2 linked regions of the Homo sapiens genome follow. The protein of the gene in region 2 purifies or fractionates together with the protein of the main gene of each other region. This does not show direct contact. Each region holds a gene or a part of one and is shown on either strand. Other genes may lie near its edges.

The links. Proteins that work in one complex are often made in the same cells at the same time.
Region 1: the proteins of CCDC32 (region 2) and AAGAB purify together in Homo sapiens (affinity purification with mass spectrometry; 2 studies listed by BioGRID and IntAct, with this or other methods). This does not show direct contact.

The regions. Positions count from the first base shown.
Region 1 is NC_000015.10:67,234,062-67,237,815, reverse strand, and holds part of AAGAB (alpha- and gamma-adaptin-binding protein p34), read left to right. Parts: intron 1-995; coding exon 996-1,186; intron 1,187-1,311; coding exon 1,312-1,408; intron 1,409-1,747; coding exon 1,748-1,837; intron 1,838-3,754. UniProt on the Homo sapiens protein: May be involved in endocytic recycling of growth factor receptors such as EGFR.
Region 2 is NC_000015.10:40,558,321-40,562,074, forward strand, and holds part of CCDC32 (coiled-coil domain-containing protein 32), read right to left. Parts: intron 1-3,754. UniProt on the Homo sapiens protein: Regulates clathrin-mediated endocytsois of cargos such as transferrin probably through the association and modulation of adaptor protein complex 2 (AP-2). Has a role in ciliogenesis. Required for proper cephalic and left/right axis development.

The sequences.
Region 1 (3,754 bases), about 27 Mb from region 2:
GTATGCATTGACGAGGAGTTTGTGACTGTTTTTCATTATATTCTTCTGATAAGTCAATTAATGGCATGTCATTTTACTTCTATAAGCTGATTTTCCACATTTGTATAAAGTGGAGGTTATGGGTATGGGTGTGAGAGACGGGAGTTTAGGTTGGAACAACTTCTAACTTCTCTTCCAGTTGTAAATACTGTATAACATAATGGAAGCAAAATGCTTCCATGGCTCCATAACCATGTCTATATTCATTTGTTCACCATTGACTTGTCTCTTACTGTGGGGATTTCCTGTTATATACATGCTGCACATAGATTTCCAAAAGATTCAGTTATAATCTAAAACATTTATAGTAATTTGCTTGGCTATTACACATTTAAAATTTATCGGAAGTGTCTTGATCAAACAAGAATTTAGGTTGGCTTTCAAAGAATGTGAACAAGGCTGAATATAAATAGGATTGGGGTCATTTATCAGTATCCATTCTTTTATTTCATTAGCTGAATTAATGTCTAAGCATTCAGTCCAAGAAATATATGTAGCTCTTCTATTTTATTAATGGTTTAGCCTTAATCCTATCTTCCTTTTAGTTTGCAATAAGTACAAAATAGTTACAAATTCTAGAAGATTGTTATTGTCTACCTCCTATGAAGTACTTAAGCAATACAATAAATAGAGCTGTCATTCTTTGTCTTCTACTTGCTCTTTTCTGGATATTTGGTTATATGACTGTTTTTTCCTTTACTACTGTCTAATCTAGTTCACAATGATTTTTGTGTTCTTAAAGAGAAAATGTCAATGACTTAAATTATATCACCATAACTTTTATAATCAGATGATCAGAGAATATAGGATTAAAGCTAATAAATGCAGGGTCCTTTGAAATCCTCACATAAAAGGAAACAGCAAAAGTACCAGCTTTATCTGGTATCTGACTGAGAAAATCAACCAATGTATATTGGTTTTGCACTTTACATGGTAATGTTGTCATTTATTTTTAGATATCCTTGGAACAGAAGATCTTATTGTGGAAGTGACTTCCAATGATGCTGTGAGATTTTATCCCTGGACCATTGATAATAAATACTATTCAGCAGACATCAATCTATGTGTGGTGCCAAACAAATTTCTTGTTACTGCAGAGATTGCAGAATCTGTCCAAGCATTTGTGGTTTACTTTGACAGCACACAAGTAAGACTTTGTTTTCTATGAAGGCTTGAATAAGAAATTATTGCATGCCTTCTTTTTTTCCCATTACATTTTGTCTGACTATCTCTTTTCTGTTTTTGTTTGTTTATATTTTTTGTTCCCTCTAGAAATCGGGCCTTGATAGTGTCTCCTCATGGCTTCCACTGGCAAAAGCATGGTTACCTGAGGTGATGATCTTGGTCTGCGATAGAGTGTCTGAAGATGGTAAGGCCTGTGGATGGGACAGTAGTTGGTACATGCATTTGCCATTCCTTGATAAACAGAGTACATCTGTTTCTTTAACTTAGGACATACATCCCATGTGACTTTATGGCTTTATGAAAATATTTTCAGCTATTTTTCTTTGGAATCTTGTAATACTTACTTTTTTTTTAAGAATGGATACTTCGGGGCTGAGAAGTCATTTTCTTTTTATTATTTTAGATGCCTTTAGAATAACATTGACATTAAGGGAAACACATTGAGATTTGTGAAGAATATTGCAGGAATAGTCATGTTTTATTTTCTTTTTACTTATGAAGATTCTTTTGCATATTATTTTAGGTATAAACCGACAAAAAGCTCAAGAATGGTGCATCAAACATGGCTTTGAATTGGTAGAACTTAGTCCAGAGGAGTTGCCTGAGGAGGATGGTAAGTGTTTATGTGTTAGGAGAAAATATGGCACTTAGATATGAGAGATTATTTTAATTCAGGGAAGAAGAATCACAGCAAAATTCAAGAAACTTTTTTCCCCAGCTGTTTCAAGGATTTAAGCAAAATCCATTGATGTAATCTTATAATCTTACACTTAGTGTAATAATTCATTTTTTTGGTTTTACCACCTGTTTTAGAACTTTTGAAAATGTGTGTTTTTCTTATGGATAAAGGTATAGGGCTGCTTTCTAAAATCTTTGTCATTTCCATAATCCTTTTTCCTTTCCCTACTGCTGAAGAAGGAGAGTTAGACCTTCGTAGTAGTTAAAGTTGATGTTTCTTATTTTGAATTCATAGTAACCTAAGGCTGAATTCCCAAGAATCGCAGGGGACATTTCAAATCCATTTGAATGTCTTTTGGACATTTGAAGCCAAAAGATAGACCCCAAATTTAATCCCCCACCTCCACCCCAGGTAGCTCTGCAATCGCTGTCCTCCGCTATTGCTGGACCTTCTATTTCTTCCCCTCTTCTACTCCCCTTCCCCATTTCTTTTCTCATCTTTTCTCCTTTGAAGTACACCTGTTTTGGTATCTACCAGGATAAGAGGGTTTTTGGTTCACCAAAACCTTATAATCTGGTACAAGAGATGAAACTTACAGATAATTGAATTACCAAGTGGAATGTCATAAGTATTATAGAAGAAATAGTAGTGCTGTGGTATTTTAGAGACCGGAGAGCTTATTTTTGTTTAAAAGTGCAGAGAACGTGTTGGCATTGTGACCTCTCACATGTCAGCTGCTCCATGGGGAAGAAGTTAGAAAAGGTCCTGGGCTTGTAGTGAGAGGACTGCTGGAGAGGTGGCATTGTGAATATGCCAGTTGTTCCAAAAGACATTCTGGGCAGGGGCAACCAACGTGAATTAAAGTACATAGATAAGACATAAGCAGTCATTTCAAGAAACTTGTATTTTTCTTCAAGGAATTAAGAAATATTTTTCTATATTCTGGTTTTATTTATAATTTTTCCAAAATGCTGTTACCTTTGAGAATAAAACCTGCTGGAGAAGAAGAGAACAAAACTGAAATAAAAACTCTGGTTTTTCTCCTTGCTCATTTTAAAGAGTGTTGAAAATTAGCATGTACATCTTTTTCTGTGTTTTTCTAGGTCCCTGAAACTTGTGCCCTGTTTTGTGTATGTGAGCCTGTGTGATTTCTGGCACTAGAATTTTCTCTTTCTCTTGTCCTTGGGAGTCAGTATTTGACTGTTATCATTTTGGAATCTCTGCTCCTTTATACTACTTTATTTCTCGTAGCCCTTTGTCTGAATAATGTTCTTGTATTCATTCAGCTTAATCTTAAAATGGGTTTTTTGATATGTCATCTTTAGGTAAGGTAATGAAAACCTTCCTAGACTTTTAAAATACAAATTATTCCTAAGCCATATTTCCTCATCTTTTACTTGCATGTATTATTCAAACATGAATATAGGACTTTATGCTAGTTTGTATTAATTTTCCTCTTACTGGTACTAGCTCTTCATTTCAGACCACATTTTTGGTTCCTGGTTATATCATCTAAAGTATTAGTTATTCTTTTGAGAATTAAGTCATTCACAATTAAGATAAACATGACTTTTAGGTCTTCATCCAGACATTGGTGGTGATAAACTTATCTTGGTAGAGTATTTTCTTTCTTTATTTTTATTTATTTATTTATTTATTTGAGACAGAGTCTCTCTCTGTTGCCCAGGCTGGAGTGCAGTGGCACGATCTCTGCTCACTGCAAGCTCCACCTCCTAGATTCACGCCATTCTCCTGCCTCAGCCTCCCAAGTAGCTGGGACTGCAGGCGCCCGCCACCACGCCTGGGTAATTTTTTTTTTTTTTTTTGTATTTTTAGTAGAGACGGTGTTTC
Region 2 (3,754 bases):
ATTACCACCATGAGCTCACCCATGTAAAAAAAACCTGCAGTTGATAAATGTTAAATATTTGCAGGGTTTGTTTTCTCCTTGAGGATATAAAAAGGGTTATCCATAGCATACATTTAAGTTTTTAATTATTGCTGTTATCAGTGGATTCTCTTTGATATAGGTTATTTAACAATAAAAACAATCTTCATATTGTCTGGCCTCAGTTGTCAAAGTGGAAGGTACTCTTTTGGGCCGGAAAAGGTCTTCCTCTCTCTAAGTATGCTGAGTCCCTGGTCAGGTGTGATTTCAATAGGGCAAGCAGAAACAGGCACTAACACGTCCCTTCTGCCGCTGTCTCCCAGTCCATGCCATAGGCAACAGAAATGACTCTTATTTTCTTCAGAGATGAAAACTTCTTAACTGACTTTAGAGAAGATCATTAACTTTCCAAGCCAGTCTTCACTAATCAAAATCATCACTGTCTTCATTACACTTTTTCTTTCTTTCTTTTTTTTTTTGAGACGGAGTCTCGCTCTGTCACCCAGGCTGGAGTGCAGTGGCACGATCTCACTCAGCTCACTGCAAGCTCCGCCTCCTGGGTTCAAGCGATTCTCCTGCCTCAGCCTCCCAAGTAGCTGAGATTACAGGCGCACACCATCACACGTGGCTAATTTTTGTATTTTTAGTAGAAACAGGATTTTGTCATGTTGGCCAGGATGGTCTTGAACTCCTGACCTCATGTGATCTGCCTGCCTCGGCCTCCCAAATTGCTCTCTCTCTTTCTCTTCCTTCCTCTCTCTCTTTCTCAACAAGGTCTTGCTCTGTCACCCAGGCTGGAGTGCAGTGGCATGATCACAGCTCACTGTAACCTTGAACAACTGCTAGGCTCAAGCAATCCTCCCACCTCAGCCCCCTGGTAGCTGAGATTACAGGCATCTACCACTTCAGGCTAATTTTTAAAAATGTATTTGTAAAGACAGTCTCACTATGTTGCCCAGGCTGGTCTCAAACTCTTGGCCTACACGTGACCCTCCCACATCGGCCTCTCAGAGCGCTGGGATTATAGGTGTGAGCCACCATGCCTGACTTTCATGAAAGTTTCTTAGAAGCCCTTGTCATACAGCACCAACAAGCCAAGGGATCTCGTTCTATAGCTTTATCCAATTGTTGCCTCTTCTCCTTATCATCATTAAACAGATGCTTTGGCTACCACATGCAGAATTTTCATCCCCTAGGCCATGGCTGCAAGCATTGCTATCCTATCTTTGGTGGCTTCCTGGCAAATTTCACATTACTCCCTATCTTTCTATCACTCCACCTATGTTTTTCTCATATCTTTTTCCTCCAGTACATCATTAACAAAATCCCTTTTGTTTTTGCAAGATATTTCTTAGCTATCATGCAAGCTCTCTTCTGACTCTTCTTTCTGTCTTTCCTCAGAAGCTCCTTCTACCTGAATTGCCTTTCCTTCCTCAAAAAATTATTCCCAGGTTTGTAGCTGATCTTCGACAAAGCATATAACAACACAAATTGGGGAAAGGACATCCTATGTAACAAATGGTTCTGGGAAAACTGGCTAGCCACCTGTAGAAGAATAAAACTAGATCCCTATCTCTCACCTTATACAAAAATCAACTCAAGATGGATATAAGACTTGAAATCTTCAAAATTCTAAAAGAAAACCTAGGAAAAACTCTTCCAGACATTGGCCTAGGCAATTTTTATTTTGAGATGGAGTCTCGCTCTGTTGCCCAGGCTAGAGTGCAGTGGTGCGATTTCAGCTCACTGCAACCTCTGCCTCCTGGGTTCAAGCGATTCTCCTGTCTCAGCCTCCCGAGTAGCTGGGACTATAGGTGTGCGCCACCACGCCCAGCTAATTTGTGTATTTTTATTAGAGACAGGGTTTCACCATGTTGGCCAGGATGGTCTCGATCTCTTGACCTTGTGATCTGCCTGCCTCGGTCTCCCAAAGTGCTGGGATTACAGGCGTGAGCCACCGTGCCCGGCCTAGGCAAAAAATTTATGACTAAGATCCCAAAAGTAAATGCAACAATAACAAAAATAAATAAATCGGATCTAATTAAACTAAAAACTTCCGTACAGCAAAAGAAATAATCAGAGTAAACAGACAACCCATGGAATGGGAGAAAGTATTTGCAAACTATGTATCTAACAAAGGACTAATATCCAGAATCTACAAGGTGCTCAAACAAATCAGAAAGAAAAAAACAATCCCATCAAAAAGTGGGCAAATGACATGAATAGACATTTCTCAATGGGATTTGAGAAGATATACAAATGGCTAACAAACATATGAAAAAATGCTCAAAATCACTAATCATCAGGGAAATGCAAGTCAAAATGGTGAGCTACCACCTCACCCCAGCCAGAATGGCCACTATTAAAAAGTCAAAAGACAATAGATGTTGGCACGGATGTGGTAAAAAGAGAATCCTTATACACTGCTGATGGGAATGTAAATCAGTACAACCTCTATGGAAAACATATGGAGATTTCTCAAAGAACTAAGAGTAAATCTACCATTTGATCCAGCAATCCCACTACGAGGTGTTTACCCAAAGGAAAAGAAGTCGTTATATCAAAAAGATACCTGCACGCATGTTTCATAATTCATAATTGCAAAGATATGGAACCAACCTAAGTGCCCATCGAGCAATGAGTAGATAAAGAAAATATGGAATATATACACCATAGAACACTACTCAGCCATAAGAAATAATAAAATAATGTCTTCTGCAGCAACTTAGATGGAGCTGGAGGCCATTATCCTCTAAGTGAAGTAACTCAGGAATGGAAAACAAAATGCCATACGTTCTCACTTATAAGTGGGAGCTAAGCTATGGGTACACAAAGGTATACAAAGTGGTATATTGGCCGGGCACGGTGGCTCACACCTGTAATCCCAGCACTCTGGGAGGCCGAGGTGGGTGGATCACGAAGTCAGGAGTTCGAGACCACTCTGACCAACATGGTGAAACTCTCTATCTACTGAAAATACAAAAATGAGCCAGGCGTGGTGGTGGGCGACTGTAATCCCAGCTACTCAGGAGGCTGAGGCAGCAGAATTGCTTGAACCCGTGAGGCGGAGGTTGCAGTGAGTCGAGATCGTGCCACTGCATTCCAGCCTGGGCAACAGAATGAGACTCCGTCTCAAAAAAAAAAAACAAAACAACAACCAAAAAAAAAACAAAACACAAAGTGGTATACTGGACTTTGGAGATTCAGAAGTGGGGAGGTTTGGAGAGGGGTGAGGGATAAAAAACTACACATTGGGTACAATGTCCACTACTTGGGTGATGGGTGCACTAAAATCTCAGACTTCACCACTATACAATTAATCCATGTAGCCAAAAACCGCTTGTACACCAAAAGCTATTGAAATAAAAAAATTAGGGCCAAGCGCGGTGGCACACGCCTGTAATCCCAGCACTTCAGGAGGCCAAGGTAAGCCTTATTCCCAGGTTTGGCTTTGTGAAACATGGATGAATCTCATGGTTGTTCCACAATAAAAGGATATTACAATTCTAAAGACTGCCCCTCACCGCCCTAGACTGATATTTCTTTTTCCCCTAGCATGGGACAATTTGAATCTCTTTCCTGTGTTTGGAATCTCTCTAGATACTTATACTATGGCCGCAGGACAGGGTACTGAAAATGTGTTCAGGAAATATTTTTAAAATAAAATGGCTAACAAGAGGCAGAATGAATCTTATGTCAATATGCTCCCATTCTCAACAATCAATCTATTTATGTA